2 separate regions of the Homo sapiens genome follow, and region 1 is linked to region 2. Evidence: fine-mapped expression QTL. A gene starts in region 2. The other region holds a variant in brackets. All regions are shown on one strand. Distances are from middle to middle.

Region 1 (17,583 bases), 65 kb after region 2:
ACCAAATAGACATTCTTAACATCTCTCTCCATCACCTTCTAAACTATTTATATTGATAAAGTTACAGCGATTTGAAATTCTTTTTCTAGCCTAGTAATCTGAGTAATTTGTAGGATAAACATGTTGGGGGAGGGGCAGGTACATGGAGGTGTCAAAGTGCCTGATGGCTGAGGAAGCAGGCTGGGATTACTGCATGGAGGTGTCAGAGTTTCCAGCTTTGTGGCTCCATGGTTGGGTGGAGGGGCAGGGGGAGAGATCCAGTGGAAGCCATGTTGTGCCAGTGCCCTCAGGGCGAGGAGGCAGCCAGCAGTGTGCTACATTAAGCAAATAACTAAGTTGATTGAGTGAAGAAGTAAATCTGTTGAGGAAAATGGGAGCTAGGTTTCTCAATGTCAGAGAAATTATTTGAAAACATGGAAAGGCCAGGCGCAGTGGCTCACGCCTGTAATCCCAGCACTTTGGGAGGCCGAGACGGGTCAGGAGATTGAGACCATCCTGGCTAACACGCTGAAACCCCATCTCTACTAAAAATACAAAAAAAAAAAAAAAGGTTAGCTGGGCATGGTGGCAGGCGCCTGTAGTCCCAGCTACTCGGGAGGCTGACGCAGGAGAATGGTGTGAACCCGGGAGGCAGAGCTTGCAGTGAGCGAAGATTGCGCCACTGCACTCCAGCCTGGACGGCAGAGCAAGACTCTGTCTCAAAAAAAAAAACAAAACAAAATCATGGAAAGGAGGAAGGGTAAAATGAATCTCATGGTATTGGATTAAAATTGGAAAAGAGTTCATTAATATGAACTCTTGTTCAAAGGAAATATATATATATATATATATACACACACACACACACACACACACATATATACACACACACACACATACACACACATATATACACACACACACACATATATACACACACACACAGAAACCCTATATATATATATCTCAGAGCTGAGAAAGGTATGTGTATATGTACATATCTGTCTCAGCTCCGTCCACCAAGAGGGACTAGAAGTGACACCCAGTGGTTATGAGCACAGCTAGCACCAAGATGCTGATTTCCAAACCCTCCACTAAAAATGGAATTGAATTGACAGTCCAGAAATAAGCCCACACATCTACAGTCAACTGATTTTCAACAAGGGTGCCAAGACTATGGGAGAGAATAGTCTTCAACAACTGGCGAATGGACAAGTGGATATCCACGTGCAAAATAATGAAGTTGGACTGAGATCCCACACGATAAATGAATATTAACTCCAAACGTATTGAAGACTTAAATTCAAGAGCTTAAACAATAAAAACTTTATAAGAAAACAGTAGTAAATCTTTACGATCTTGGTTTTTACAATGGATTCTTAGATATGACACCAAAGTACAAGCAACAAATAAAAAATAGATAAATTGGAATTTATGGAAGTTAGAAAATTTTGTGCATCCAAAGACATGATCAAAAAGTGAAAACTCAGGACAATGGCAGAAAATATTTGCAAATCCTATGTATAAGAGTCTAGTATGCAAAATATATAAAGAACACTGAAAACAACAAAAACCAAACAGCACAATTCAAAAATGGGCAAAGGACCTAAATAGAAATTTTCCAAAGAAGACCTACAAATTGCGAAGAAGCACATGAAAAGATGCTTGACGTTACTAGTCACCAGAGAAATAAAAATCATGAGATATGACTTTATACTAACCAGAATAAAAATGTAAGAGAATAACAAGTGTTGGTGAGGCTGTGGAGAAATTGGAACTCTTGTACACTACAGGTAGGAATATAAAATGGTGTAGACAATTTGGAAAACTGGCTGATGGCTCCTCCAAAACTTAAACACAGAATTACCATAAGACCTAGCAAGGGCATTTCTAGGTGTATATCCCACAGAACTGAAGACAGAAATTTAAACAAAAACTAGACAACCCAAATGTCTATCAACCAATGAATGGGTAAACAAAATGCAGTCTGTTCTTCAATGGAATATTATTTGGCCATAAAAAGGAATGAGGGGTAGGAGGGAGCAGGGATAGAGGGTTGATGGCTAAGAGGGATGAGGTTTCTTTTTGAGGTGATGAAAATATTCTAAGTTGACTGCAGTGATGGTTGTACAGCTCTATGACTATACTAAAAGTCATTAAATTGTTCACTTTAAATGGGTGAATTGTGTATAAATTATGTCTCCATAAAGCTGTTTATTTTTTTAAAAGACACACAAAAGAAGAAACTTTCCTGCAGCTCCAGCTGACCTTGCAGGCTGGCCTCTTCCGCTCTGACCTGTGCTCCCTAAGCTCCCTGCGAAGGAGATAAAATGAGCTCCTGGTCTGCAACAGCTATTGGTTATTGTAATGTCTGCTTTTGTTTAAAAAGAAAAAAAGACCCAACTCCTTATACAGTTTGAATTGTATATATTTGGGGATCTCTGAGTTTCCTGTATCTGGATGTCTAAATCTCTTACTAGACTTAGGAAGTTTTCAGCAAGATGACTGGATGATCATGTTTCAGCCTCTGTGAGACAAACATTACAGCAGCAGATGGCACAAGACCCAGGAGCCTGAGGATGAACATCACTGGAATCCACACACTCATCAGATCTGTGCTTCCCAGGCAGCAGGCACCAGTTCCCCCTTTGCCTTCCACCATGATTGTAAGCCTCCTGAGGCCTTCATCAGATGCAGATGCTGATGCCATGTTTTCTGTACAGCCTGCAGAACTGTGAGCCATTTAAACCTCTTTATAAATTACCCACCCTCAGGTATTCCTTTATAGCAATGCAAAAATGGACTAATACACAATTTAGGAGCAAGGTGTAGGTAAGACAAGGAAAGGACTGGAAAAGGGTGAAGTGACTGCTGTAAGGACTGGTAACATCAATCACATGGCTGTGAAAGGAGGGCAACAGTCCTGACTGGTGGAGAGAGCACACTTTAAACTCTGTGAAGGCAGAGGAGGGGCCGCTAACATCTCAGCTACTTGTCTGCAGAGCCTCTGGACAATTTAGCCCAGACTGCCACCACCACTTTCAACTCAATGGCTGGCCAACAAATCTTAATCTAAGGACTCTCAGAAACTTCCCAGGAACTGCTGACTCAAGTAGTTAACAGCCTCCATTCAGAACGATAGAATGAGATTAACTTTCTGGAAACTAACAAAACTCTTTTGTACAAGAGCTTAATAGAATTGGACCCTGATCCCAACTCAACACAATGGCACTGCTGAGGTCACTACAACTTCTTACATGAAAAGAAGCTACCTATACTAGCTTGCCACACACAAAGTGGTCTATTGTCTCTAATGTACATGGTAATGGGACAATAACACATTACCCAGGACTTCCTGCTGGTCAGTCAAGGCAGGATATGTGCAACTGTCAGCATCCCTTACTGCACCTGGGTTAATGAAATATTTAACTGGCTTGGCTCCAGTTGGGGAGCCTAGCTGCAGTGTGTATCCTCCAAGTGGGCCTAATTAGAGACTCATTCTTGTATATGTTGCCCAAAACAATCAGAATGTATTTGGTTAAGGCCCCTATAAGCACAGTTAATTAGAGTAATTTGATGGGGTGGCCTATGCTCCTGAGAATTCTTAGCTAGCTATTTGAAAAGTGAGGGATGGAGCTGTAGAGAGTGGATCTGCCATGGTGCCCTTGTGACCTGGCATGCATATATCTATGCAAGCTAGGCTTGAATTGCAACTTATCTGAGTCTTGGCAGGATGTATCATGATCCTCCCAGAACACAAGAGGATGGGAGGGTGGTGAGGTGCTGTTTCAAGGCTATCTCTAACCTCCTAATCTCTCCTGGGAGGCTGCCACTGAGACAGACAGTTTCTCATCTGAGTACTATTGAGGTCTGAGGCTATCTGCTCTGCCCCACTCAGGGTATAGCTACAGAATATAAAACTGCTAGCTGCAGTCTAAAAGGGGCTCCTCAGCAAGGGAGTGTCCCATAACTGGTGCAGCAAACATGCAGGCCTTGTTTCAGAAGTCCTGTTTGGTGCAGGGAACAAGGACATGGGGAGCTGGCACCTTTGGCCCATCTTCCTCTTGCTGTCTATGTAGGTAATAAACTGAATCTTAAAAGGACATGTCATTACTTTAGAAGCCAAATCAATCACTCTTGGGCTTGGCCTTTTTTTGACAATGTGGTAGTTATGTACAAGAGTGTCTTTGTTTTTGAGAATTGTACACTGGAGTGTTTAGGACTGATGGAACATGTCTGCAACTTGGTCTCAAATGGTTAAGAAAAAGCCATATGATAATGGTGGTACACACATGCACGCATGCATGCTGCAGAAATGTGAAGTGTTACCAATTGAACAATCTGGATGAAGTGAACATGGGAGTTCTTTGTACTATTCCTCCAACTTTTTGGTAAGTTTATAACAAGTTACTTTTTAAAATCTACTGAGCTTAAGGCCAGGGGGAAGTCTTATTTTTCACTTTGAACTCTTCTGTAAATTGTGTTTTGAATTTCTACAATGAGTATGTATTACTTTCTTAATACAAAATTAAAGTGTCCGATTTTTAAAATCACAAAAGTAATATAATAAAGGAAACTTGAAAAATGTGAAGAGAAACCTATAATTTCCTCAAAATAACTCATTTTTGGTAGTCCTTTTGGTCTTCTCTTTCTTATTTCTGTTATTCATTTCTAGTATTAATGCATCTTATAGTTTTGCATGTGGATTTCTTCATTTAACATAATTCTAAAACTTTAATATGTTGTATAGGTTTTATAATTTTAGTGCCTGTAGTCCCAGCTACATGATTCACTAAACAACAACAGCAAACCCTGGGGAGAGGGACATCTGATTTCCAGAGCCACCACATTATAACATCAAAATGTCCAGTTTTAAACAAAAAAGTATGAGGCATGCAAGGAAACAAAGTACGGCCCACTGACAGGAAAAAAAAGTTTATAAAAACTGTCCCAGACAAAGCCCAGGTCTTGGACTTACTAGACAATTTAAATCAACAGTTGTAAATATGCTCAAAGAACAAAAGGAAACCATGAATAAACAATTAAATCAGGAAAATGATATCTCGCCAAATAGAGATAACAAAGATAAAATTTTTAAAAGGAACAAAATAGAAATTCAGGAGCTAAAAACTATAATAACTGAAATGAATAATTCATGAGAGAGACTTAACAGCAGATTTGAGCAGGCAGAAGAAAGAATCAGTAAACTTGAAGATAGGTCAATTATCAGAGACCCAAGTATCAAAAAGAAAAAAGAATGAAGAAAAACAAACAGATCCTCAGAGACCTGTGGGACACCATCAAGCTTAACAATGCACCCACAATGGGAGTTCTAGCTAAAGAAAGAAGGGGCATAAAGAAGTAATGGCCAAAAACTCCCCAGATTTGATGAAATCTATGAATCTACATATT[C/T]AAGAAACTCTAAGTATTTTGAGAGGGATAAACCCACACCTAGACACTTCATAGTCAAAATGTCTAAAGCCAATGACAGAATCTTGGAAGCAGCAAGAGAAATGACTTATCACATACAACTGAACGTCAATAATATTGACAGCCAAATTGTTGTCAGAAATCATAGAGGCCAGAAGGCAGTGGGATGACATATTCAAAGTGCTGAAAGAAAAAGTGTCAGTGAAGAATTATATGTCCAGCAAAATTATCCTACAAAAATGAAGTAAAATAATGACATCCCCTTACCAGTGGATCTGTTGGATTGAATTAAAAAAAAGAAAAAATAATGACATTCCCAGAAAGAAAAACAAGAGACTGCCATTGCAGACCTATCTTAGAAGAAATACTAGAGAGAGTTATTCAGGCTGAAATGAAAGGACAGTAGACTGTAACTCAGATTCACATAAAGAAATAAATATCATTGGTAAAGGTAACTACATAGATAAATATAAGACATGGTATGTTGTATTTTTGTGACGCTTTTTTCTTCTACTTAATTTAGAAGACAGCTGCATAAAGCAATAATTCTAGGATGTGTTGATCGGCATATAATGTAAAAAATATATAATATGTATGACAATAATAGCCCAAAAGAGAGGAGAATAGAGCCATGTTGGAGCAAATTTTTTTAATATGGTTGAAATTAAATTGGTATTTATTAAAACCAGATGATTTTAAGTTAAGATGTTAATTGTAATCACCAGGGCAACCACTAAGGAAATAATTTAAAAATATAGTAAAGAAACAAGAATTAAGATGGCATACTAGAAAATATGTAACACAAAAGAAGGCAGTAATGGAGAAATAGAAGATCAAAAGACACAGGTATATAGAAAACAAAGAGCAAAATGACAGGCATAAATCATCGCTTATCAGTAATTAGATATAAATGAATGAGTGAGATTATTAGAATACACACAAAAAAATCCTATTATATGCTGTTCACAGGATACAGACTTTAAATTCAAAGATACAAATAAAGTTAAGATGATGGGAAAAGATATATCATGCAAACAGCAACCATAACAGCTGGAACAGCTAAACTAATATCAGACAAAATAGATTTTTTAAAATGTTAGAGACAAATAGGGGCATTTTATAAAGTTACAATGGTCAATCCACCAGGAAGATGATATAAGCATATAGGCACATAACAACAGAGCCTAAGATACATGAAGCAAAACCTGACAGCATCAAAGCAGAAATAGAAAATTCAACAATGACTGTTGGAGACTTCAATACACCACTTTCAATAGTGGATAGAACAACTAGGTAGATGATAAACAAGGAAATAGAAGAACTGAATAACATTATCAACCAAGAAGACCTAACAGACAACTTACTTATAAGACACTTAATCCAACAATAGCAGCAGAATATACATACTCCTCAACTAAACATGAAGAATTATCTAAGTTAGATCATATGTTAGGCCACAAAACGAGTTTCAATAAATTTAAAGGACTGAAATTATACAATGTATGTTCTCTCTCCACAATGGAATAAAATTAGAAATCAATAACAGAAGAAAATTTGGGAAATTCACCAAGTTATGGAAATTAAACAATAAATTCCTAAATACCCATTGGGTCAAAGAAGAAATCATAAGGGAAAATAGAAAATACTTTGAGATAAATGAAAAAAAAAAACCAAAACTTATGCAATGAAAGCAGCGCTTGGGGGAAATTTATATCTATAAATGCCTACAGTAAAAAAGAGAAAGGATTTCAAATTAATAACCCAACTTCTCAGCTTAAGGAACTGAAAAAAAGCAAATTAATTCCAAAGCTAGCAGAGGGAAGGATATAATAAAGGTTAGGGTGGTAACAAATGACAGGGAACAGGAAAACAATAGAGAAAAATCAATAAAACCAAAAGTTGGTTTGCTGAAAAGATCAACAAAACTGACAATCCTATAGCTAGACTGACTATGAATAAAAGATTCAAATTTCTAAAATTGGGAATGAAATAGGAGACAATACTACAAACCTTACAAAAAGAAAACGGGAATTATATCCAAAGGGGCAAAGCAAGATGGTAGAATAGAAGCCTATGCCATTCATCCTCCCTCCCCACACAGAAACACGAAATTTTAACAATTATCTGCACACACAAAAGCATCGTCACAAGAACCAAAAATCAGGTAAGCAATCACAGTACCTGGTTTTAACTTAATATTTCTGAGAGTCATTGAAGAGGATAGGAGAGACAGTCTTGACTCACAGACAGCACCCCTCCTCCATCTCCTGGTAGCGACCATGCATTTGCAGGTAGGGAGCATATGGACCAGACCTAACCAGAGGGGAATTGCCCTTCCCAGTGGTCAGACCTTAAGTTTTTGCAGGCCTCGCCACCATGGGCCAAAGTGCTCTGGGGTTCTAGGTAAATTTGGAAGGCAGTCTAGGACACAAGGACTGCAATTCCCAGGTGAGTCCTAGTGCTGAGCTGTGGACTAGGGTGGCACATGACCTAGTGAGACACATACCTAATGGAGTGCTTGCAGTACCCCTCCCTCAACACCAAGCAGTGCAGCTAGCATCAAGGAAATGTTTAAGGAGAGAAGAGTAAAGAGGACTTTGTCTTGCATCTTGGATACCAGCTCAGCCACAGTAGGATAGAGCACTGGGCAGTCATGAGGCCCCCATTCCAGGCCCTAGCTCATGGACAACATTTCTAGACACACCCTGGGCTAAGAAGGAACCCACTGTCTTGAAGGGAAGAATCCAGTTTTGGCAGGATTCGTCACCTGCTGACTAAAGAGCCCTTGAGCTTTGAATAACCAGCAGCAATACCTAGGGAATATACTGTGGGCCTTGGGCTCTGAGATGTGCTGTCTTCAAGTAAGACTCAGCACATTCCCAGCTGTGGTGGCTACAATGAGAGGCTCCTGTTTGAGAAAAGCAGAGGAAAAAGTAAAGGGAACTTTGTCTTGCTCCTTAGGTACCAGCTCAGCTACAATGTGGTAGAACAATGAGGAGGCTCTTGGACAGCATTTCTGGACCTGCTCTGGGCCAGAGGGGAGCCCCCTGCCCTGAAGGGTGAGTCCCAGACCTGGCAGCATTCACCACAAGCTGAATGAAGAGCCCTGGAGCTTTAAGTGAATGTTGGAAATGGCCTGGAAGAGCCCCCCAAGGGACAGGGTTGGTCGTGGCCACAGGGAGAGGCACCTCTGCCTGTGGAAGGGGGAGGGAAGAGTGGGAAGTACTTCGTCTTGTGGTTTAAGTGCCAGCTAAACCACAGTAGAACAGAGCATCAGGTAAATTTCTAAGATTTTTTTATTCTAATCCCTGGGTTATTACCCTGATACCAAAACCAGACAAAGATACATTAAGAAAACTATAGGCCAGTATCTCTGATGAATATTGATGCAAAAATCCTCAATAAAATACTAACAAACTGAATTCAACAATTCAGTTTATATTACAATAAATTAGATAACATAGATGAAGTAGACAAATTTTTAGAAAAACAAAAACCACCAAAGCTGACCTACCAATAAACAAAAAATCTGAATAAACTTATGAGAAGTAAAGAGATTGAATTACTGGTTTTAAAACTTTCCACCAGTAAAAGCCCAGGACCAGATGGCTTCACTGGTGAATTCTGCCAAACATTTGAATTCATATACCAGTTCAGAATTAACAGCAGTTCTTTACAAGCTCTTCAAAAACAGAAGAGGAAATACTTCTCAACTCATTCTATGAGAACAATACTACCCTGATACCAAAACCAGACAAAGACATCATATGGAAAGAAAACTAGACACCAATAATTCTTTATGAATATAGATGTAAAATTCCTCAACAAAATCCTAGGAAACCTAATCCAGCAACATATAAAAAGAATGAGGCCCCATTACCATGTGACAATTTTCCTAAGAGTGCATGGACAGTTCAACATACAAGAATCAATCGATATAATACACCAGATTAAATGAGTAAAGGACTAAAACTGCATGATCATCTCAACAGGTGCAGGATAAGCATTTGACATAAGCCAACACGTTTTCATGAGAAAAAGACTCAACAAACTACAAAGAGGAAGGAACTTCCCCAACCTGATAAAGGCCATATATGAATAACCCACAGCTAATATCATACTTAATGGTGAAAGACTGAATTATTTCTGCATAAGATCAGAATCAAGACAAGGATGCTGTTTCCTGCCACTTTAATATTGTACTAGAGATTCTAGCCAGGGCAGTTGAGGGCAGGGGAAGACACCCAAATTGGAAAGGAGATGTAAAACTGTATCTATTTGCAAATGGCTTGATATTATATAGGGAGAACCCTAAAGAATGCATGCACACACACACACAAAACCTATTAGAGCTAATAAATGAGCTCTTCAAAGCTGCAGAGTTTGGGCAGGGTTGCTAGCTGCTCTGGTACTGGAAACCCAATTTAGCTGGGGGTTGTCAAAACAAATGGGTACGGGGTTTCTTTTGCAAGTGGTGGAAAGGCTGTAGATTGATCTTGGTGATAGTTGCACAACTCTATGAATATACTAAAAACTACTGAATTTTACACGAAATGAGGGAAAAGTTGTAGTGTGGTGGGCCCCCCACCATGTTACTTAAGAGTGTATGTCCACGGCTTGAAACTTCAAGGCTTGGCGGTGAGCCAAGGCCATGGTGCCCAGCCTAGGAGCAGGTGTCCTTGAGAACCCAAACATCCTGGAATGGATCTGGGAACCCACTACAGCAAACAGTCTCATTGCACACAGTAGGCAAAGAGCCAGGAAATTAGCTTAAAAGCAGCTTAGAGATGGGAGGCAGGGCAGATCTCTGGAGTTGTCCTGCTGCTGCCCAGGAGTGCCCTGTATGTAAGTCCTAATAAACTCCTAAGATGGACTTCTTTGGTACCTTGGCTCCTTCCCAGTTTGGGGGGCCCAGTTTGAGGGAATGTTACAGTGCCAGGCTTTTCTCATAACGAAGATATATGTGAATTAAATATCAATAAAGCCATTTAAGAAAATATGCCTTAGAAAGATGTGATTTAAAAGTAATGTGTGTGCATGTCTAAACAAACTTCAACATTCCTTAAAGGAATACATGAACATACAACACTCAACAAAGCAAAATGAACAGTATCTGGCATCCAATCAGCAATTACTAGGTATAGGAAGAAGCAGAAAAATGTGACCCATACACGAGACAAAAATAAGTCAATAGGAACAGGCCAAGAAATGCCCAAGATGATGGAATTAGCAAATATTTAAAAATAACCATTATAACTATTATAATATCCACAAGGGTTTAAAGGAGAATGTTCATTCTTTTAAAATCTTTCATTACTCTCATTATGTTGAATAATATAAAAAGAACCAAATGGAACTTCTAGAGATGAAACATGCAATATTAGAAACGCAACATGTTCTAGATGGGATTAACAGCAAATCAGACTCTGCAGAAGAAAAGATCCGTGAATTTGAAGGCATAACAAAAGAAAATCTCCAAACTGAAGCATAGGGTAGGAGGAAGGCTCTTAAAAAATGGAAATGAACAGAGCTTTGGTGAACTGTGATACGATCATCAAGAAGTGGCCAGACGTGGTGGCTCACGCCTGTAATGCCAGCACTTTGGGAGGCCCAGGCGGGCAGATCACTTGAGCTTAGGAGTTTGAGACTAGCCTGGACAACATGGCAAAACCCCCCATCTCTACAAAACATACAAAAATTAGCTGGGTGTGGTGGCACATGGCTGTAGTCCCAGCTACTCAGGAGGCTGAGGTGGGAGGATGGCTTGAGCCCAGGAGGCAGAGGTTGCAGTGAACCGAGATTGCACCATTGCACTCCAGCCTGGCTGGGCGACAGAGCAGAACCCTCTCTCACTAACAAAACAACAACAACAAAATCACTGAGTGTAATACACATTTAATTGGAACACTCCACTCAATAATAGAAGAATATACATCTTTTCAAGTTTACAAAGAACATTTATGGCTGGGCGCGGTGGCTCACGTCTGTAATGCCAGCACTTTGGGAGGCCGAGGCGGGCGGATCACGAGGTCAGGAGATCGAGACCATCCTGGCTAACACAGTGTAACCCTATCTCTAATAAAGATACAGAAAATTAGTGAGGCATGGTGGCGGGCACCTGTAGTCCCAGCTACTGGGGAGGCTGAGGCAGGAGAATGGCGTGAACCCGGGAGGCGGAGCTTGCAGTGAGCGGAGATCCCGCCACTGCACTCCAGCCAGGGCGACAAAGCGAGACTCCGTCTCAAAAAACAAAAAAAGAACATTTACCTTGATAGACCATATTCTGTGCCATAAAATAAATCTCAAATTTTAAAAGACCAAAGTCAGAAAAAGGTGTTTAGACAACAAAAGCAGTATTTAGCAGTAAATGTCTATATTATAAAAGAAGCAATACATCAAGTCGGAAACCTAGCCTTCTACCTTAAGAAACCAGAAAATAAAGAGCAAAATAAACCCAAAGCAAGTAGAAGAAAGGAAATAATAAAAAGCATAAGTTCATGAAATAGAAACAGAAAATAGAGAAATCCCATGGAACCAAAAGTTGGTTCTTTGAGATCAACACAATTAACTCTTTAGGCAGACCAATCAAGAGAAAAAAAGAACATACATTACCAATATGAAGAGTGAGAGAAGTAACATCGGTAAAGAGTCTACAGATATTAGAAGGATAATAAAGAAATACTATGAACAACTCTATGGACTTGTGAATCTGGTGCTGCCTGAAGAGTAGGAAGACATGACCTCAAGCAGGCTGCAGCCCTGATAATGTGTGACTGAAGCTTCCCTAACAATGCCATATCAAGAATTTCCAAGGTACTGTCATAGGATCACCTAACTTCCCAAGACCTGAAGATCTCGAGAGCTTTCATATGGAGTCCCCAACATGTCCCCGTTCCTCATAATATTCGTTAATGGTTGTTGTTTATTTTGTTACTGTGGCATGTACTATGCAAAGCGCCCTAGCTCCTCCAGAGATGCCCTGCCCCAAACCTGGACTTGCCCTCAGAAACCAAGCAAGTGCGTGGTACCTGCCTTCTTGGGCCGGGCAGCCATCTTTCCCAGCATTCTTGCAGAGCCCGAGCTCCTCGCAAGTTCAAATCCCACCTCATAATGCTGGATGTCTGCGTCAGGCTGCATGAAGTAAGGTCGCCCGCTGAGGGCTCCCTGCAGGGTCAGGCATTTCTTCCGTCACCTGGGGCTCCTTGTCCAAAACCAGGGGTGCCGGTACCCTGCTCAGGGTCTGGAAGAGGTGGGGCTGGACTCTGTCGCCATCACCCTCGACTCGCACATGGGGTTATCTGCGTCCAAGGCTGCCCTCGGGGCGACCACCGATGAGCCCATGGAGCCTGAGCCGAAACTGGCTGGTGAGTAGGAGGCCGGGTATGGGCAGCCCACGCAGCTAGTGCAGTCTGAGTGGGGAAGAACCTCCTAATGGCTGCACCTTTTCTCCTTCCGCTCCCCCCTCCCCCTCCCCCTCCCCCTCCCCCTCCCCTCAGTGCCCTCCCCTTTTCCACGTCCCTGCAGGAGGGGGAGTTTGAGCTGTCATTTCTAGTAATCTTTGAGCAGAGAGGGGAACCTCTGGTGGGTTGTTTGTTTGTTTGTTTTTTGTTTTTTGAGACAGAGTCTCGCTGTGTTGCAGGCTGGAGTGCAGTGGTGCGATCTCAGCTCACTGCAACCTCTGCCTCCCTGGTTCAAGCGATTCTCCTGCCTCAGCCTCCTGACTAGCTGGCACTACAGCAGCCCGCCACCACGCTCAACTAATTTGGTATTTTTAGTAGAGACGGGGTTTCTCCATGTTGGTCAGGCTGCTCTCGGAACTCCTGACCTCAGGTGATCCGCCTGCCTCAGCCTCCCACAGCGACCTCTGGTGTTTTTAACTACAAATTCCAAAATATTTAGAAATTATTCAACTAAGATAGGAGACAAAGAGGGTGGAATAATAACCCAGGCTTCTTAGAAAGGTCTCATTTCCCAAGTTCACCCCAGTGCCCTTATAAATTGTAACATTCAGCGAGTCTTCTGAAGGAAAGTCTATTGAATAGATTCTCCCTTAGGTATTCCTAACCTAACGTCCATGAATAGGCTTTAGAGTGTCCATGGCACAATTTTTGTGCCCTGTGTATGTTTCTAGGAGGAAGATTTTTGATTCCTAGAGTGACCCGTTGCTCAAAGGATAGACTCCCAGTCTACCCAGTCTAGCCCCATTCCCTGTTGTTTGAGCTTGTAGTGAGCAGTGACTTGATAAACAATGTGTGCTATTGGCAGAGTATACTTAAATTTTACAGCTATTGAAAGCTTCACAGCTAGCTCACTGTTTTGATCACCCCTTTATGTTGGTATTTTGCTTAAACTATTCATTGACTTAATCTGTATTTGCCTTCTGAAGTTTTATCTTCTTATCATCGTGCTAATGTGCATGTGTTACAGCAAGTTACTAAGTTAAATAGAGATTAATTTCATATATATATATATATATATATATATATATATATATATATGTTTGCAAAGCATCATTCTCAGCAGGCCACATACTAGATTCTCTGTATATATTATACAGTCCTGGATACTTATGTAATATATGCCAGAATTGGCTTCTGAAGACCTAAAGAAATGCTCATTAATGAATAAGTGCCATGGATGAAGTTGTGCCATAATCATAGTTTGTAGACAGTTTTGAAAGCAAAGAGGATTTTGAACTGGTAAAAAGTAGGGAATCATTGCCATGTTCTTGAATGTGAAAATCAAATTATGAAACTTAACTTTTGAGGGGCTGTATGAAATGAATTCATGAATGGTTATAGGCATGAGGCCAGAAATTTAAAAGCTGTCACAATAAACTAGGTACAAAGTTATGAGGTAGTGGACTCAAGAAAAAGAAGCAATAAATAAAAGGATACGGGATGCAGATAAAAGGATCAGAGATGGAGTGACAGTACAAAGAAAGTTCCTAACTGAACCTTCATGGAATGACAGTTTTCTTGAGAGAAGTAGTGACAGTGGTTAATAGCTTGGTCTCTAGGGTCAAACAAATCTAGTTTCAAATCCCAGCCCTGCCATTTAACTACCTGTATGATCTTGGGTATGTTACCTTCTTCAGTACTGTTCATTCATTTAATAAGTATTGACCAAAACCTGTTATGTGCCATCTGCTTTGCTGGGCCTTGAGGACCAAAATGGATTCATTCCCTCCCCTCATCAAGTATGCAAGATAACTAAAGGCATTAAATATCATGTAACATATAACAGTGCAAATTGTAATACATGTAATGAAGAAAATGTTTTTGAGGATTCCCTATGTCATTTCTCCAACATTTGATTGCATCTGTACTTAAGTTAAAATTACCAATTTTGGTTTTGAAAATTATTTCTCAGTCTGTATTCTAATGCTTGTCATTGTCTCTAATTTAGATCTAATACAGTACATCAGTGAAACTAACATAAGCGTTGAACATCTGGCTAATGTTCTTTCTGAAAAAACTAGGAGCAGTAGCTGGGTGGTGGTGTTCAAAGCCCTGGTTACTGTACATCACCTCATGGTGCACGGAAATGAGGTGAGCGTAAGCATGCAATTGCAAAATGTTCTTGGTTTGTCAAGGGCTTACTACCTTTTACTTTAATTAGTGGCAAGTGAGAGAAGTGAATAGCAGTATGTATTTAAAATATTTTTATCTGTTTTTATTAATGAATATATCTTTGTGATCAGTATTCTTTGAGGTGTATCATTTTAGTCACTGATGAAATAGCCACTGGATAACAATGTCCATAATAGAGTGGATATTTCTGTCAATTCTTTAGAGGATTTAGACCCCAAAAAGCCCCTTAGAAATGTGTTACCTCATACTTGCTTTACTTTGACAGGAGAGACTACACCTAAGCATATTACCTCATCACCTACCCATCTCTCTATATTTTACAGAACAACTGGAATGCTCCATAACATTAAATTACTTATTATTTTCTACTTTAAATTCACAGGCATTTTCCCTCAGTAAGTTTTGTATTAAAAAATCAGGGTTTAGAAATTGACTGGATTTTGAAACTCATTATAAAGCAACAGTAATTACACAGCAGAGTACTGGTAAAAAATAGAACATATATATAAATGGAACACAATAGAGAGCTTGGTTATAGAACTACACTTATATGGGAACTTGGTGGCACTAAAAAATGTGGGGAAAAGCATGGGGGAAGGAATTTAAAATAAAGCCTATTGGCACAAGCAGCATCCCTATGGAAAAAATGAGAATGAGATGCTTATGTTACCCCATATACAAAAATAAATTCCACATGGATGAAATATCTAAATTCAAAAAATAGATAAAATTGAAGAAAATGTAGGAGAATATGCTTATGACATTTGGGTAGGGAAGGCGCCATAGTTAAAAGAAGATATTTGCAACATATATACTATAGACTAAAGGTTAATATTCAGAATACATAATTAGTAAGAAAAAGGCACTACAATAGACTAATGAGCAAAAGAAATGAACAGAGGGTTTATAGAAAAGGAAAACAGAATGTCTAATAATCATCTGAGAACATGCTCATATTAGCAAAAATTAAAATTTCTGACAGTATGAATAGTTGGGAGGACATTGAGGTAATGGGAATTCACATACTCTGTGGATACATGTAGCTGCTGCAGTTTATCACTGTGGAGCGGAGAACATTGAGACACATTTAGAAAGTTGAAAATGCCCATCCCAGTGACTCAGCAAATCCACTTCTCACATCATGTTTATAATAATGAAAAACTAGAAATCACCTAAATTTCCATCACTAGAGAACAGATAAAATTTAGTGTAGTTATACAATAAAATGCTGTATTACATTAAATGAGATTGTATACCAGTAAGGCTAGACCTCAAAAACAATGCTAATAGAAGAAGCAAATTGTAGAATGACACTTAGAGTGCAAAACTACTTACGTAAAAAATTTAAAATACACACAGTACTTGTCCATGGAACAAATACATGTGAAACTATGAGGAAAATAGATTATAAAGATAATGCATTAAAATTATGATACCAGTTACTTCTAGGTAGAAGCAGGAAATGGATCTCAGGGATGGGGCTTTATCCGTAATCATTTATTTTCTCTTATTTTAATAATAGACTTGAAGCAGATATGTCAGAAAGTTAGCAGTTATCATTTCTAGGTAGTGGGGTCCACAGATGTATCATATTATTATTTGTATACTTCCGTAACTTAAAATTACTCAAAATCAAGAGTGGGGCATGGCTAAATAGAAAGTCTTAGAGGGAAACAGTGTGTATTCACATGAGCTTTAATGTTTAACTCCTTGTTTATTTGGGGGGTATATAAATAGAGGAGAGTTGGCAGCTGCAAATCTTTATGTTGGCCAGCACAGGATGTGATTGTGCGCAACTTAATCAATGTTCCTGAAATAGATACAAGGTGAACGATAGAATTAAGTATACATTCATAATGACAATCATTAAGGAACTTTTTGTGTGTACAGAAACTAATTTTAGAATTTGGCACATTTGTTTGACAGCGTTTCATTAAACATGTTTCATGTCAGAGCTCTTTGTTCACTTTACACAATTTCCTGGATAAAAGTGTCATAGAAGGTAAGATGATTCTTTGATGGAAATATTTCCATATGCCAAAGAGGGAAAAGTTCTGAAAATTGTGCCTAGTTAAAAAAGTGTCTAAATTATGAAGGCTGCGATGTGCTATACATTTTAAGAATGTAAATAATCCCCAAATTCATTGATACAACGTATATTTGGAGCTTACTAAGAATAACAGAATATGCCATATGCTAGAGACAGAAAAGTTAATGAGACCTACAGGTCTTTGCTCAGTGAAGCCTTGTCCAGCCTACCAAAAATTGCAGCACCTTTACACCAGTTCTCTGCCTGGGTTTATTCTTTCCCCTTCTCCCTGACTGTCTCTGTGTTCCTTTTTTTTTTTTTTTTTTAACATAATTGTCTGTCATTTCCCATTGAAATGTAAGCCCTATGAGGGCAGGAATATTTGTCTGTTTTTTTCACTGCTGAACTTCCAGCACTTAATACATCGCCTGGCTTATAGTAGGCACTCAGTGATTGTTTAATGAATGAATAAATTGAAGGGGAATCAGCATACATTTGGAGGTCGAGTAGAGAGTAGTTGAGTTTGTACCATGGCCTTTCTTCTCCTTTTTC
Region 2 (14,955 bases):
CTGGCATCTGGAAAGACACTTTTTGCTCTGCATTTTTGGAAGTACAAAAGGTAATGAGTTAGTTTAAAGGAAACTTTGAATTAGTTTAGCATGTAATCTATAAAAGGTATCAAAATTGGCTCACGCCTGTAATCCCAGCACTTTGGGAGGCCGAGGCGGGCAGATCACGAGGTCAGGAGTTCAAGACCAGCCTGACCAACATGGTGAAACCCCGTCTACTAAGAACACAAAAATTAGCCAGGCGTGGTGGTGCATGCCTATAATCCCAGCTACTTGGGAGGCTGAGGCAGAATTGCTTGAACCCGGCAGGCAGAGGTTGCGGTGGGCCGAGATCGCACCATTGCACTGTAGCCTGGATGACAGAGTGAGACTCCATCTCAAAAAAAAAAAAAAAAAAAAAAAAAAGGGCGTCAAAATTGTGATGCTGGAAGTGAGTCCTTTCACCTAACATACCTCATATGACTTAAATTTGATGAATGGCACTAGTGGCTTGAACTTCAAGAGAATTCATTAATACCCTATATCTAATAGTCTTAAAATACATTTAGTACAAAACCCAAATTTTTCTCTTAAACAGGTTTATTTTAGCAGCTCAGTATATTACATTCTACATATTTGTCTTTTAATGTGTTTATATTTCTGCCTGTTCTGCATAGATGGCATATTCATTAACTTTTGTAGCTGACTTTTTCATTTGCTATTTGCTGCTACCTGGCCTGAAGAGTCAGGAGGATAAAAAAAATTCATTTGGTGGAAACATGGAGCAGCACTTCAGAAGAACTTTACTTTGATGCAGACTTCCGTGTTAGGTTTTCTTCCTCTTCTTTTTCAAATCCTGAACAGACGACAGATCTTCCCTTGGGATACTGAGCACAACACTTACGCAGTTCTTGGATGACAGCCTGACACTTTGATTCCATGTAGCTGTTGGCTGAAAAACATACAGGCAGACTCTAGTCATGATCTCATAGGACTAAGGTACAGGGAGGTTTAGATCAGTGCTTCCCACCCCTTTTCACTTTCAGTACCTATGGAACTGGAAGAAAGAAGATATACCAAAGTCCACTGAATTCTTTCTAATTTAGAGACCTGTCGACAGGTTCGTTAGGGAAAGTATGATTTACAAAGTGGTTGAAAGCTATTTTAATATATAATTTCCTTTAAGGTTAATAGCATGTATGCACCTTTTTCTAGGACATTGGTTTTTAACATCATTTTTATTACTGGTCACTAATTTGATGAATTAGGAAAATGCACATACACCACACATTATTTTGCATACAGTTTAAGCTGATTGTTGGACCTCCCCTACTAAGGCTGTGCATCAGGAATTGGCAAACTGCAGCCTTAGGGTCAAATTCAGCCGGTTTTTACAGCTGGGAGCTAAAAATGGATTTTAATTTTTAAAGGGTTGTAAACACACAACACATACACAATATATACAACAAAGGCCTTTGGCCTCCAAAGCCTAAAATATTACTTGTTTGGCCTTTTTCATAAAACATTTGCAGATCCCTACTATACATAAACACTAAGTTAAGGAGGACCTGACCTAAAGACTCTAGGTCAGCTGCAGTTAATGAGTCCCCCAGTACTAAAATGGAGTACATGGTAGTTAGCTCAGGATAGGAAAGACAATTCTGATTAGAAAGGCAGTATAGCAAGGTGGGTAACAGTCCAGATTTGGAGCTAGACCAAGGGCGGGGTTGGCGGGGGGTGTTCAAATTCCCACCATACCTCTTACTAGCTATGTGACCCTAGTCAAATTACATAACTTGTGTGTCTGTTTTCCCCTTTATGAAATGGGGGTCATAGTAGCATCTACCTCATGGATGAAAGGCTTAATACGTATAAAGTCCTTATAACGGTGCTTGTCATCTTTTAGTCTTTCCAGTTCTTAATCCTCCCACACTGCCAAGGGGGTGTCACCAGCTCTTTTTAACTTATTTTTTTCCCTTAGCTATGGGTTATTTCAAACAAGGTAAGGTTTTATTTGGGAGAAGGAATTAAATGCAAAAAACTTTTTCCTTTTCCTTAAAGTTGGAGGGAAGAAGTTTGACTAAAATGGCATTATTATACATCCAGATTTTAATCTAAAAGATTTTATAAAATATTGCTAACATCAAAAAATGAAAAGTCCAAGAATGAAAGCTAAAAGTCCAAGGAGATACACAAACAAAGGATTTCTTTGGTGGTGAATCTTTGGGGGAACTCTGAACATTTTTCCTTCATACCTTTCTATATTTTCATGACCTTCCATCTCCATCTATTACTTTACTAGTGAGGAAAACTTATTAAAATTTTTTCAAATTCAGATAGCCTTATAGCTTTTTCTATTTGCTCTTCTGGCAACAGTCATTCACTGATTAGAAAACTAAAATCCTCTAACATTTGGTCAAACTTAGCAGCTGGACAAATGGACAAATCACCTCAAATATGCTTTAGTCGAGATTCACTTCTGCCTTTAAGAGTTAGTTGATGACTTTGGCAGCCTGAATTCCAATTGTTATTTCAACCGCACCTCTTCCAGATTGCTTTTAAAAAGTGAATTGTCAGCTGCAGTGAAGTATAACCAACCAATTTAAAACTAGCCTTTTAGTAAAAACAAACAACAACAACAAAAAACCCTTTTTTTCCTAGCCCTAGCCCTAGGAAGTCTGAATTGTTCTAGGTAAGTGTTTAAAGATCTCCAGGTGATGCTAATCACCTGGAGTGAAAACCCCTAGCTTTGATCACATTACTTTTTATTTTCTGCATCTTTGATGATACAATGAAGAGAATCTTCAGGATAATTACATATACGTTACATTCTTAAAAAAGAGTTAATACAGATAAAAGAATAATTGGTCTCTTATAGTTAGTTCACAGTGGAAAAATATTTTTAAAGCATTTTACAATATACTACCTTGTAAACATTTCTGTATCTCACAGGCTTGCTTCTGGCACGGATCCTTCTGCGGCATATCCAGAAAACTAAAACAAGAAAAATGATTTTTATTTTTCTTTTTTCCATAAAGACTTTAAAGCCCCTCTACGTGGAATTTTCTTCTGAGACAAGCAGTATATGCCCTTACAATTGCTGGAAAATAATTACACTAAAAATACTCTTCCCAAACATAGGATGAATCAACTGTATTTTTATAATATCCATTTCATTAGGCTTGGAAGATATAAATAGCTTTACATGGAAAAAAAACCTTGAATTCAATCAACTCTTTTTGAATACTGTAAACCAACGTTAGGCTAGAGGAGCCGACGGCGCAGCCTGGCTCTATCATTCGCAGAAGAAACCCTTGATAAATGATTAAACTCCTTGAGCTTTTTTTATTACTCATATATAAAATGGGAATCATACCTACCTCAAAGCATTGACAGGAGGATTAAATGTGATAAAGTATATAAAGTACATACAATAGTGCCTGGAAAGGACTCCAATACATGGTAGCTATTATTCCCAAGACTTTTTTTTTTAAAGTAAAACCTTACTTTTAATGTATATAAACTGTTATAACTACTTTAACTCAGGAAATTCTTTACAAGTAGTAAATGTTTTCCTAGGAATCAGCAATATTTGGTGTTATTACTTCCTGAGAAAGGTGCCAGTTAAGCAGCTAAAATGGTTTTTCTTGAAGTTCTTATAGAAACCAGCTTATTTAAAATATCTGTAATCAGAGAATGAATTCAAGAGCCCACAATTTTGATCAGCAACTTCCAGTAATTTGAAGACACGATTTCAGATAGAAAAAAAGGCCCACAAGCCTTTGTAGCTAATTTCATCAATGCATATCTCTTTTCAGAGCCCTCTAAATACTCAGCAGATCCAAATTAGGTCAGTACTGGGATGGGAAACACTGGAGCAAAACCTAGGATATTTACAGGATGGGAGAAGGAAAGGCAGGTGAATTGCTGCAGGGCAAATAAGCGACAAATAGATGTTGATGCTGCTAGGAGCTGCTCTCTTCTCTCTAAATCAGTACCAAGTCCTTGGTGATCAGGGCATCTGTTCTGTAGAAGGTGCTGACTTTTGTGGGATTCATCAGATCCCAGGTCCAGCCGATGATGTCCATTAAGGGTTCTATGGCAATTTCCAAAGGAGTCAATTTCAAGTTACGGATCCTGACTAAGTGCTTTTGTTGACTTGCTTTCTGCCTACGTAACCTCTCTCTGCAGTTTCACTTGCAGTATTCTTCATGACCCTTGCTAAACTTCTGTTTCTTGAGCAGTTTTTCAACCCACTCCCTCCCCCCAGGCCCAAGGGTGGGTGCACTGCAGTAGTGGATGAAGTGATTGCCAAATACTGAACAGAACAAAGGAGCATATCTTCGTAGAATCCCAGCACCTGGAAAAAAAAATCATTAAAATCACCACAACTGAATAGAGCCAAAACAAAGAGGGGGAGGACAGAGGAGAAATAGAAATACATACCAGGTTAGTCATCAGGCAAAAGCTTAAGCAACAGCTCCTGTACTCCCCTGACCTGTCAGAAAAAGAAAAGTTTATGGAGTACTCTGTTACGAGAGTCCCAGTACAATGGAAAATAATTAAGCAACATGTGTACCATTAAATGATGCTGTATCTGCCACAAGCGAGAGTTGTTATCCATGTAGCGCTCCTCCGGGTAGAGTTGCCACATGAGAGGTAGCTGGGAGGTAAGAAGGTGACTTGGCCTAGCTGCGTCACCTAAGGGAACCTGAATTTGCTGGACTCGTGCCCTTAGGAAACTCGTCTCCTAATGGAAAGGAATGATCAAAAATAAAACCAAAGACTTCAGAATATTGAGACTGGAATAGAAACCAAGTTACTTGAAAGCAAAATCAAAGAAATAAGCAAAATGTAAACAGTTACCTCTTCCACGACGGCCACCCACGTGCGCTGGTATTCGTCGCGGTAGATACCCTCTTGGTGAACCCAGAGGTGATCGGGTGGAGCCCCCACATCCTCTCCTGCCATTCTGGGCTTTGGGTTCCAATTCTAGCCCTGCTTTTCTCCACCTAAGCCTGCAGCACCCGCGCACAGGACACAGGTGTGACTTTTTGGGTTTGAATGAACTCACCAGTAAGCAAGGTGATCTGGTACTAGCAACCACTAACCAGAACCAAACCTCATATGTCTATTTGCACAACCTAAATAGAACCAAGGACATCTGAAGCTTTCTGCAAGACAACTAAAGTGACACTCAGGCAGAGCCTCAGGTAGTGCTGCTGACTGCAAAGCGCTCAAGAATTTGGCTAGGTGAGGAGTTCTGTGGAAATGTAGGACTAGCACTACAGGAAGCTGGGCAGTGGTCTCACACATACTGCATTCACAAGCAGTGTCTGGCAAAATGTAGTTAGCAATAGAATATGCAAAGAGCGTGCCTAAAGACACACTTATTTTGGCAGGAAGGCAGTATAACAGACACATGCATGTCATATTCCCCAGGTAAAAGCCACTTCCAAGCAGTTTCCATTTTAAAAGGTAAGATTCTGAAGGACATATATGCATGTCTTTCAGAGTTGAAATTAAAAGTTTGTTTTAAGGGCAAATGATCTATTTATCAGTTTACTAAGAAAGTTTACAAATAGCGGATGGGCATTTCTAGAAGGGGATTTTCTTGTTAGGAAAAGTAAGCTAGCTTCATGGAATTTCTGAGCTGCAAGAGACTTTGGGGATCATGCTGATTTGGAGCTGAGTGAGTGCAAATGAAAGTTATCCATCTAGGTCCTTGTTTTATTTTAATAATTCTGCAGGATGTTACAGGAGCCCATTTTTCCATAGAGGACTAGGTTTAAATTTTGACTTCCTAAGCCAGAAGACCAGAAGCACATTTGAGAGGTGTAAAGGAAGCATACCTCCCAAAGCATTTGAGTGGTAGGGCAAACTCTATAACGATCCTCTGCCCAAGCCCCAGATATCATTTCAGGACCTCACAATAACTTGATGTGCATTTTGCATGAGTCAATCTTCTAGACCTTACTCAGAGCATTATAGCGCAGTTGTACTGTATTTCTACCTTTGGCCAGAGTATAGATACGGCACTGGGGAGCTGCCCCTCAAAACAAAGACCTGCTATTCTCATTAGGTGGGAAAAGAAATGCAGCGTGGGAGGGTGGTTGTTAGAGTCCTCAAAGTGAGACTGTCGAGAGCAACCAGATGCTTCACCCATTATACCCTGAGTGCATCTGACTCTGAGCCTGGTGTAAGCTCCTGTCTTAGTTTTCATACATATGTGCTCTCTCATTTCAAACTCGTCTAAACTTTCTCTTTAACCAAATCCTGATTTCTCTCAATGGCAACACCACCATTCCTGATCCTGCAGACTCAAAACTTATGAATTATCTTGGATTTCTTCCTCTTATTCAGTTGCTACATCCTATATGTCACCAATTCCAGCAGGCACTACAACTACCACTGCAGTTGAGACCAACTTTCCCCAAATACCAGGCTCATTTCTAGCTCCATACCCTTGCTCTTGTTTTCCACTTGCCTAAAATGCCTCCCTGGGCCTCTCTGCCTATCTTAGTGCTATTATAGCAGAGTCCAGGTGCCTGCCTCCTCTATGAAAACTTTAGAAAATTCTTGCCTCTTTTGACTACTGTAGCATTTATATTTAAACAAAGTCACCTTACACATTTGCTTTGCTTATTTCACAAGTCCTGTCTTCCCTAAAGCACAGTATTGTATTCTGCTCAATAGCAGGAATGATACAGTTCTGGGCACCCCAAGTCTCAGGTACTGGTCAAGCAATGTTTCAGTGAACAGGTGTATATGTATGGTGGGTAGGGAAGGGAAACAAAGGAACGCCACAGTGGTTGTCATGATTGGCTATGTATACGTGGGTAGAGATTGATTCTCTAGGCATAAGCCTCTGGCTATATATAATTTTTTTCCAAAGCCCCCCTTTTTTCCCATTTGCAGATACAGTTGTTTTGCCTCTCTTCCTTCCCAGAGCTTTGGAAAAGAGAAATACAAATAAAAACCTGGTAAATACTAATGTCAAAATAAAATATATTAAATTCGGATTTCAAGCACAGAAGACTTAAGTGTGGCCAATAACTGTTTTAAAAAAGTGGAAACCATGTGTTAAGGGTTTCAGGACCATCTCAATTTCATAGATAGGTCCTAGCAACAACCAACATGTTGACATTTAAATTTGTTTTGAATGGAAAACAAAATTGCATTGGTTATATTGACATTAAAAGGAAATAATGCCAGTGGAATAGAGGGCAAAGAGTTTGGAGATGATGGTCTGAGTTACTGAGTCACTACAAAGAGGCCTATGAGTCACTACAAAATATTCTCAGAAGAAAGGCAGTGTGATGTGCTGCTGTGACCCAAAGGTCAACATGCTGGGCATCAGCGGGATGAGCTTGGGAACCACCTCTCAGCACAGTATCCTGGAATTGTGTGTGCTAGCATTCAGAGGGCATGCAGGCCCAGAGAAAGACAACTGCAGTGATCAAGGGACAGAGAAGTCACCATATGAGCATGAACAAAGTCCTCAGCAGAGAAATGCAAAGGCTGAGGGAGAGGGATTCAGATCAAAGCCTATACAATCACAGGTTTTATGAGTGGAAAAATGTGATTCTTAGAAAACTTGCTCCCAACATTTTCCTTGGTCAAATAAGTTTGGGAATCTTGGAGAGTCATAAAGCACATTAGTGTAGTAACTGTTCTGGCAAGTTATGCAGTAAAGAAACTTTATGTTAACATTTCCCAAATTTATTTGACTAGAGAACATTTTATTTGCACATGATACTTGTTTACAAAATTCAGGACTTCTCGAACTAAGACGAATCTTTTAAAACCTCAACATAGACTTAGGTACAAGGTGCAATACAATACATGGAATATAAACTTGTGCAACTCAACTCAAGGAATACTGCCAGCTACAAATACAAATGAATTCCAAAAATGTTTAGATAACTGCATAACTTTATCATCCACTAGAAGAGATTGTCCCCATGAGGGTCACCTTGATTTCGGGGCCAGAGAGCACACTGGCCAAGACAGACAATTTCTTAGTAAGGCATTTTGTAAATTAGGTTTTAAATGGATGACATATAAGATAGAAGGGCTTCCTTAGGTAGTAATCTAAGTAAAACTATCATTTTTCCTTTACAGAATAAATTCTTTTGTGTCTTTTTTAAAAAAGTATAGTTTGCTTTAATTGCCAGGTTGATGAACAGTTTTTAAACATTGATCAGTTGAATACACTTATTTTATTAGAAGTCAATTAATAAACTCGTCCAATTACAATGAGTGAAATTACCAAGAACACAGGCCCAGGCCTGTGTATGAGTCCTGAGTCTGTCACTTACTAGCTTTGTGACCTTGGACAAGTTAACGTCTCTCCACCTCAGTTTCCTGAGGTGTAAAATGAGAATTAAAGAACATATTAATCATGATAGTCTTTATTTAGCATTTCCTATATGTTTACATATATTGACTCATTTAATTTTCACAATCTTCATAGGGCGCTATGAGGTGGGCAGAATTATTATCATCCCCACTTAAAGGTGAGGAAAAGAAAGGCACAGAGAAGTTAGGTAACTTGCTCAAGGTCACACAGTGGGGAAGTTGTTGAGCTTGACTCCAAATGGGGCAGTTTACATGTACCAGGCATATAAATGCTTAGTATCTAGCATATAATAAGCTTGCCATAAATGTTAATAATTTTGTTCTACTCCAGTTAAATGCCTGGAGCTGTAAAAGGCAGCCATGAGCATTAGAAAAGTTAGTGAACCTCATTCTGGAATATGAGATTGACTACCGCCGATAACAAACAAAAGGTATTTTTCTTCTTGAAAGTGCCTAAAGGCACTATATCCCATCACCAAATGTTAATGTCATAATAATAAGAACAGCCGTTCCTGCTCCATGAGGACGGGGCATACTAGCCACAAACAGTAACTGAAAATAACATATGATATAAAATTGAAACAAGAGAAAATTTAGACAGGTCCAATGTAACTGCACACGAAAATTTTCCAACCTTCATCATGATCAAATTAATTATAGAAAGATGTGCCATGTGATCCTTACAGATCGTTAGGTAAAAACGGAGGCTGCTGGCGTGCACATTACAGATCGTTGCACTGGATGGGGACCCTATGTGTGGGGAGACTTGGGTTGGAACTGACTTGGGAGAAAAGAGCAAAGCATCAACACTTCAAGTAGCACCTTGGGAATGTTCCCTTTCCAGTACTGCCATACCTGCCTGGCTTCAAAACTACACAAAGTAGAAAACCAAATCAAAGACACGAACACGGACGGGCTGTGGAGGCGGCACGGCATATATTGTGCTTTGATTTAGAATCGCTTTCAAAATCCACGTGTGATTCCTAGACTTGTGAGTTGGAAGATCTGTACTTTTATCCTTGGCACGTTTGACATACCTCGAAATAAAAATTACTTTTACATATATTTTTACTGTCTGATATCATCGAGACAAGGAGACCCGAGGAAACTTGCATTCTGGATACCTAATGTGATACATCCGAACTTGAATAAAAACTGAAGTTCTCCATTTCCCCTTCCCTGTATCCAACAAATAGCTACCTAAAAGCCTTTGTAGAAAGTAGCAGCAGCCAAGCTTAAGAGTGATACTTTTTCAGATACAGTATAACACTGTTTCTGCAAAAGGTTACTCACATGAATATAATGTTTCTTGGGCTAATTAATCCGCCTTGAGAACAGCTAGGCTAAAACTTCCAGGTCTCCCACCCTGGGCCACTCAAGCCAGGATCGCGACGTGAGCCCGGGGTGAGCCGAGGGGCATCCCGGGCCGAGGTCACTCGAACCGAAGTTATGAGGCGCGGGCCGGCAACCGGAAGTGGTCCAGGGAGAGTTGTACGAGATTCGGGGGCTGTGACTTGGAAATAAAACAAAATAAAATAAAACCTTAACTGTTTTGGGACTGACTTTCAAAAGAGCGTCCCCCTGGCTCAAGAGGCCGGCGTTCGCGGAGATGTCGTCTTAAAGGGCTGTCCCCCAAGCGTGTAGGCCGCGCACGGGTCTCCTTAGCGGGCGGGCAAAATGGGCGCCGGTACTCGGGAGGCGCCTGCCCAGGCGCCCGGGCGCCGCTCACAGAGTACGTCCGCCTGCGGCCCCAGAGCGCCGCCTCCCTGCCGCCCCCGCCGCCCGGCCTGACGCCCGGACCGCGGCCGGCCACCGCCCTCCGCCCCGACGGCCACGCCTGCCCCAAACCGCGCGGGCGTTTCCCAGGTGCTGCTGGGCGGGCCCCGCCCCCGTGCCCCAAGGCCCGCCCCCGCGCGCCAGCCGCGCGCCCGCTGCCCCCTCCTCGCCCCCACAGCCCCGCCCCCACAGCCCCGCCCGCTCCCTAAGCCCCGCCCCCTAGGAACCCGCGCGCCGAAGGCCAGGCCTGGGCGGAGCGCACAGCGCTGGGCGCTGGGGAGGCTGCGCCGCAGCACCCGGTTGGTCAGGACCAAGTGGGCCCGAGGCGGACGTGAGAAGGGTCGGGCCAAGATGGCGGTGCAGGTGGTGCAGGCGGTGCAGGCGGTTCATCTCGAGTCTGACGCTTTCCTCGTTTGTCTCAACCACGCTCTGAGCACAGAGAAGGAGGAAGTAATGGGGCTGTGCATAGGGGAGGTGAGTAGGTCTGTTAGCCTGGATGGAACCCTGCTGAGCAGTCCCAGTGTGTCCCCGGGGTGGGTGCCGGCAGCTCCCAGGGCTGCGGAGGCCACAGGCATCCTCGATTTAGGTCCTTGGACACCCTTTACATAGCTCTGTCGCGGGGAGCCCCGTTTCTTCTGGCCGCCTGACACTTGTTTAGTCTCCTGCGAGCCCCCGGCGGTCTGTACAGGCCCCGGGAGCCTTGCCCTTTCTCCTGTAGCCTGGGGCTTCTCTTTAGATCTGCGCTTTTCGCCCGGTTGACCAAAACTGCAAGGCAGGTCAGAAAGACACTGGAGTATAATGAGGATGTCCGGGTATTACGACGCAGCAGCTGACCACAGTTAGAGCCCCTTGCCTCGCCTCGAGTCTTCTGTCTAGGGAGCAGAGATATCAACCAAAGCATTTGAAGGGTATCGAAGAGCCTAACAGAAGGTGCGGGGCTTGAAGGAAGCAAAAGTTTCCGCTGCATTGTGTTGAGGAGGGGCCGAAGAGGATGAGGAAATACAGTTTAGCTGTTTACAGTCTAAAGTAATTCTCCAGTCTTTCATACCATGTGCGTGAACACATGACCTAATTGTCATATAATCTGCATCCATATATGTCAAACAAACGTAATGTGATCAATAATGTTTTTTGCTTTTTCCCACTCTAGTTGAACGATGATACAAGGTAAGACTGTATTTGTTTACTCATATCTTATAATCTCTAAGTCATTGTTAACCTAAAATTATGGCGACTTTGGCAGTATTGTGTCCGGATCGTGTCTTAAATTAATTACCATTATCACTCCGGGGCTCCCTTAATGATACAACCTTGAACTTTGGTTTCTGCCTTACCTCCTATTCAGTTGAGATATGGGATAAACATCTTAATAAGCATTATCATAATTGTTGCGTTTTAGGGGTGAGACAGAGCCTCACTCTGTCGCCCAGGCTGGAGTGCAGTGGCGCGATCTCTGCTCACTGCAACCTCCGCCTCCCAGGTTCAAGCGATTCTCATACTTCAGACTCCCGAATAGCTGAGATTACAGGTGCCCGCCACCACACCCGGCTGTCTTTTTTTTTTGTACAGACGGGGTTTCACCATGTTGGCCAGGCTGGTCTCGAACTCCTGGCTCAAGCAGTCTGCCCACCTCGACCTCCCCAAGTGCTGGAATTTCAGGCGTGAGCCACCACACCTGGCCTTGCTCAGTGTATTTCATGTTCTGTCTCCCCTTAAATGCCAGTGAGATATCAGTAATTTTCTTAGTGACAGAGAGCATATACGTTTAGAGGCATTTCCCCATTGATCCATTCCTTCACGTAAATTGACAGTGACATTGCCTTTCCTCCTGATGGACCTCAGTGATCTCAGAGATCCCCAGTAGCTTCAATACTTGACGTGGTGAAACCTTTCGGTAACATTTTAATTTAAACTTCAAATCATACCATAGTATACTTCTCAAGCCCACCTCCTTAGTTCCCAGGATTCCAGGAATTTAGCTTTGTCCATTATAACTTTATACACTCAGCCACTTGTGCATGTGTCCCAGATTGCTTCTAACAGATAGAGTGCAGCTCTAGCCTCAATTCAGTTTCCCTCCTCTTCTTTGGTCTCTGCTAAGATTTCATTGCAAAAACAGTTAATCCTGTTATTTTGCTTTAATTCCTTTTTATATTCCAAACCCCACTTCCTTTTTTTTTTTCTAATTTATTCCCAGTAGGAGTGACTCCAAATTTGCATATACTGGAACTGAAATGCGCACAGTTGCTGAAAAGGTATGTGTGCTAAAATTTTGCATGATGGAAACTTGCAGTTGGGGAAAGATTTCTGTAATCCAGTGATCTCAGCCAGAGTATGCGGTTTCTGGCTGGATGAGATATTCTTTCTAGTAAAATCAGATGAAGAATCTACTCACTAGGAATGGGACCTAATTTTCTGTTCTTTGTAGCAAATTGTCTCTACTTGATCAAGATTAATAATCACTGTCAGTACCACCCTCTTGCTGCTCTCCTTGCTGTCACTGCCTGTTTTCTGGCCCTTCTCCCACTTTCCTTGATACTTTGGCATCCTTGATACTTTCACATCACTATTACCTCTTTATCTCGAATTCCAACATCTACTCATGCAGCCCTCTCTTCTTAAACAGGCAAACTGACCATAGCATCATAGTTCTTAGTCTGCCTTGACTTTTTTCCTATCTGCACTCCTACACCATCTTTTGTGGCATGCTCTAGCCTTGATGGTCTAGTGTAATGCTTCTCACCTAATCGTGGTATCGGACCAGTTAACGTTTCCCCCAGTCTGTCACAGACCGATGCTTTTGTAAAATACAAAAAAAATGAATTACTTCCCCTCCTCCCACCAAGTTATCAGGCCACACCTTCATCTACTTATTACTACTAGTTACAAACTTCTCCACCTTAATCACTTTGCATCTCTTCCCATATCAAAGAAATAAGTCCTCTTCCTATCCAAAGCTGCAGCTTCTTCAGAGACCTTGTTTATCAAATGTTCTGTCTCTTTTCTGGGTCTTCTCCCTGTCACCTGGTTCTTTTAGGATAAACATATGCTTAAATTACTCTCATTTTCAGAAAGGAAAGCTACTTCTTAATCCCGTATCTTCCTGTAGTCAGTACTCTTATATCCTTCCTTTAATAGCCAGACTTCTTAAAAGAATGGGCTACAATTACTACTCCTTCACCTTCCCCAGTCAAACCCACTGAGGTCTGGTTTCTAATTCTACCTTCGGTGGATTATTTCCTGGTGCTTATCTTCATCTTTCTCCTTGAATCTCTAAACTCTCATGAGTTTTTGTTGGTTTTGTTGTATTGCCTTTATTCCTGTTTCCCCCTTCCCACAATCCTTTGTGGACTCCTCTTCCTCCTCTGTCTATGCATTAAATATTACTCATTCCTCTTAGGCACTGAAATCTCTGACTAAAGCAAGAAAGAGAGAAAGAAACAATTCACCCTGGGCATCAGTTACTAAGATACATTCCAATCTTAATAATGTAATTTTATTATTCAAGATTTCATGCCCTCGTCTTGAGTTTTATGTCAGTTTGTACTGTCTAAATTAGATATTAAACTTTATTAGTTAAGCTGCCTTTTTAGTGTTGCATAGTGTATTTTTTATCCTTTTATTTTTAGCCTTTCTGTATACTAATATTTAAAATGTGTCTCTTGTGTCTCTTATTAGTGGTAAATACTTTTTAAAAAATCCAGTGTGATAATCTTTTTAAGTGGAGTATTCAGTTGAAAAACAAAACAAAAATAAACCACAAAAAAAGAAATATCATGTGAGCCACGAATGTGATCCATATACATAATTTTAAATTTTTTAGTAATCACAGTAAAAAGGAATAAATGAAATTAATTTGAAGGGTGTATTTTAGTTAACCTAAGTATCTGAAGGATTATTATTTTAATATGTAGTGAATATTAAGAAATGTTGAGATATTTTACATTCCTTTTTTCTCTTTTGTGTTGTCTTTGAATTCCATGTGTATTTCATACTTGCTGCATATCTGAAATCAGACCTGTTGCACAGTGAAAATCTATAGCTTGTTTCAAAAGCCTTCTCTCAGATTTCACCCTTGTCCCTTCAACATCTGATAATGCTAAGCCCACTCTTTCCCCTGGCCCTTCTTGTTCTTCCCCACACTAAATGTGGCCACTCCCCTTGATTCAGGCCAAGACCTCTGCTCCCTTTCTCCACACCTTTTTTGTCCACTCATAAATGCTTTATTGATTCCTGCATTGATGCTGTTTGAGTCTAAGCTATAATCCCACTTGCCTGCTAAAAATTGCCATATTGTATATCTCTCATCCCAGATTATCTCATCTGAAAACAAGCTCATCTTCTTTCCTTCCTGACCCTTTCTAAACTTAGATCTGCCTCACACGTTCTACCTAGTTTCAACCTTGAAACTTTAGAGTCCTCTTTGACCGTTTCCTGTCCACCATCACCCATGGTCCATAAGCTACCAAATCTTGTAGATTCATTCTTTTTAATGGGTCTCAAATCTGTTTCTTCCATCTCTGCCATCTGCTTAGCCCAGTACTTCATTGTTACTTCATGTACAGTTTATCTGAAATAATTTTTTTTCCTTCGAGTTCATCCTGCAAATTATGGCTTGGCATTTGAGGTCTTGTACATTCTCACTCCAACTTTCTTAGCTTTGCCATCTGCCATTTCACCTCAAGCTCTGTATCTAAATCAGTTGGGTAAGTTGTCTCCCAGACACCTCATTCACACTTTACTACTTCCATTCGGCACCTGTAGAAAATCTGTTCCCCCCACTTCCCACAATAATCAAGGAATGGATACACTTGTCTGCCTTTTCTATGAAGATTTTTT

Evidence for each region.
Region 1: its variant is fine-mapped to the expression of BRCC3 in blood mononuclear cells (TOPMed, PIP 0.96).

Annotation. Positions count from the first base shown.
Region 1 is chrX:155,124,402-155,141,984 of GRCh38, forward strand. No RefSeq gene overlaps it. Among named protein-coding and RNA genes, the nearest start is that of BRCC3, 62 kb to the left of the region's middle. The variant C/T (reference allele first, on the strand shown) is at 5,392.
Region 2 is chrX:155,061,061-155,076,015 of GRCh38, forward strand. BRCC3 (BRCA1/BRCA2-containing complex subunit 3) reads left to right here and starts at 10,448. Exons shown (of 11, transcript NM_001018055.3): 1 at 10,448-10,590; 2 at 11,267-11,283; 3 at 12,317-12,371. The coding sequence starts at 10,468. CMC4 (C-X9-C motif containing 4) reads right to left here and starts at 10,076. Exons shown (of 3, transcript NM_001018024.3): 1 at 9,634-10,076; 2 at 2,906-2,973; 3 at 562-931. The coding sequence starts at 2,963. The coding sequence ends at 783. It overlaps MTCP1 (mature T cell proliferation 1), which reads right to left and starts at 10,076. Exons shown (of 5, transcript NM_001018025.4): 1 at 9,634-10,076; 2 at 4,846-4,997; 3 at 4,559-4,729; 4 at 4,426-4,477; 5 at 2,974-4,339. The coding sequence starts at 4,950. The coding sequence ends at 4,430. RefSeq lists enhancers at 9,704-10,003, 9,988-10,709, 10,474-10,693, 10,704-10,753, 10,710-11,431 and a silencer at 10,044-10,363.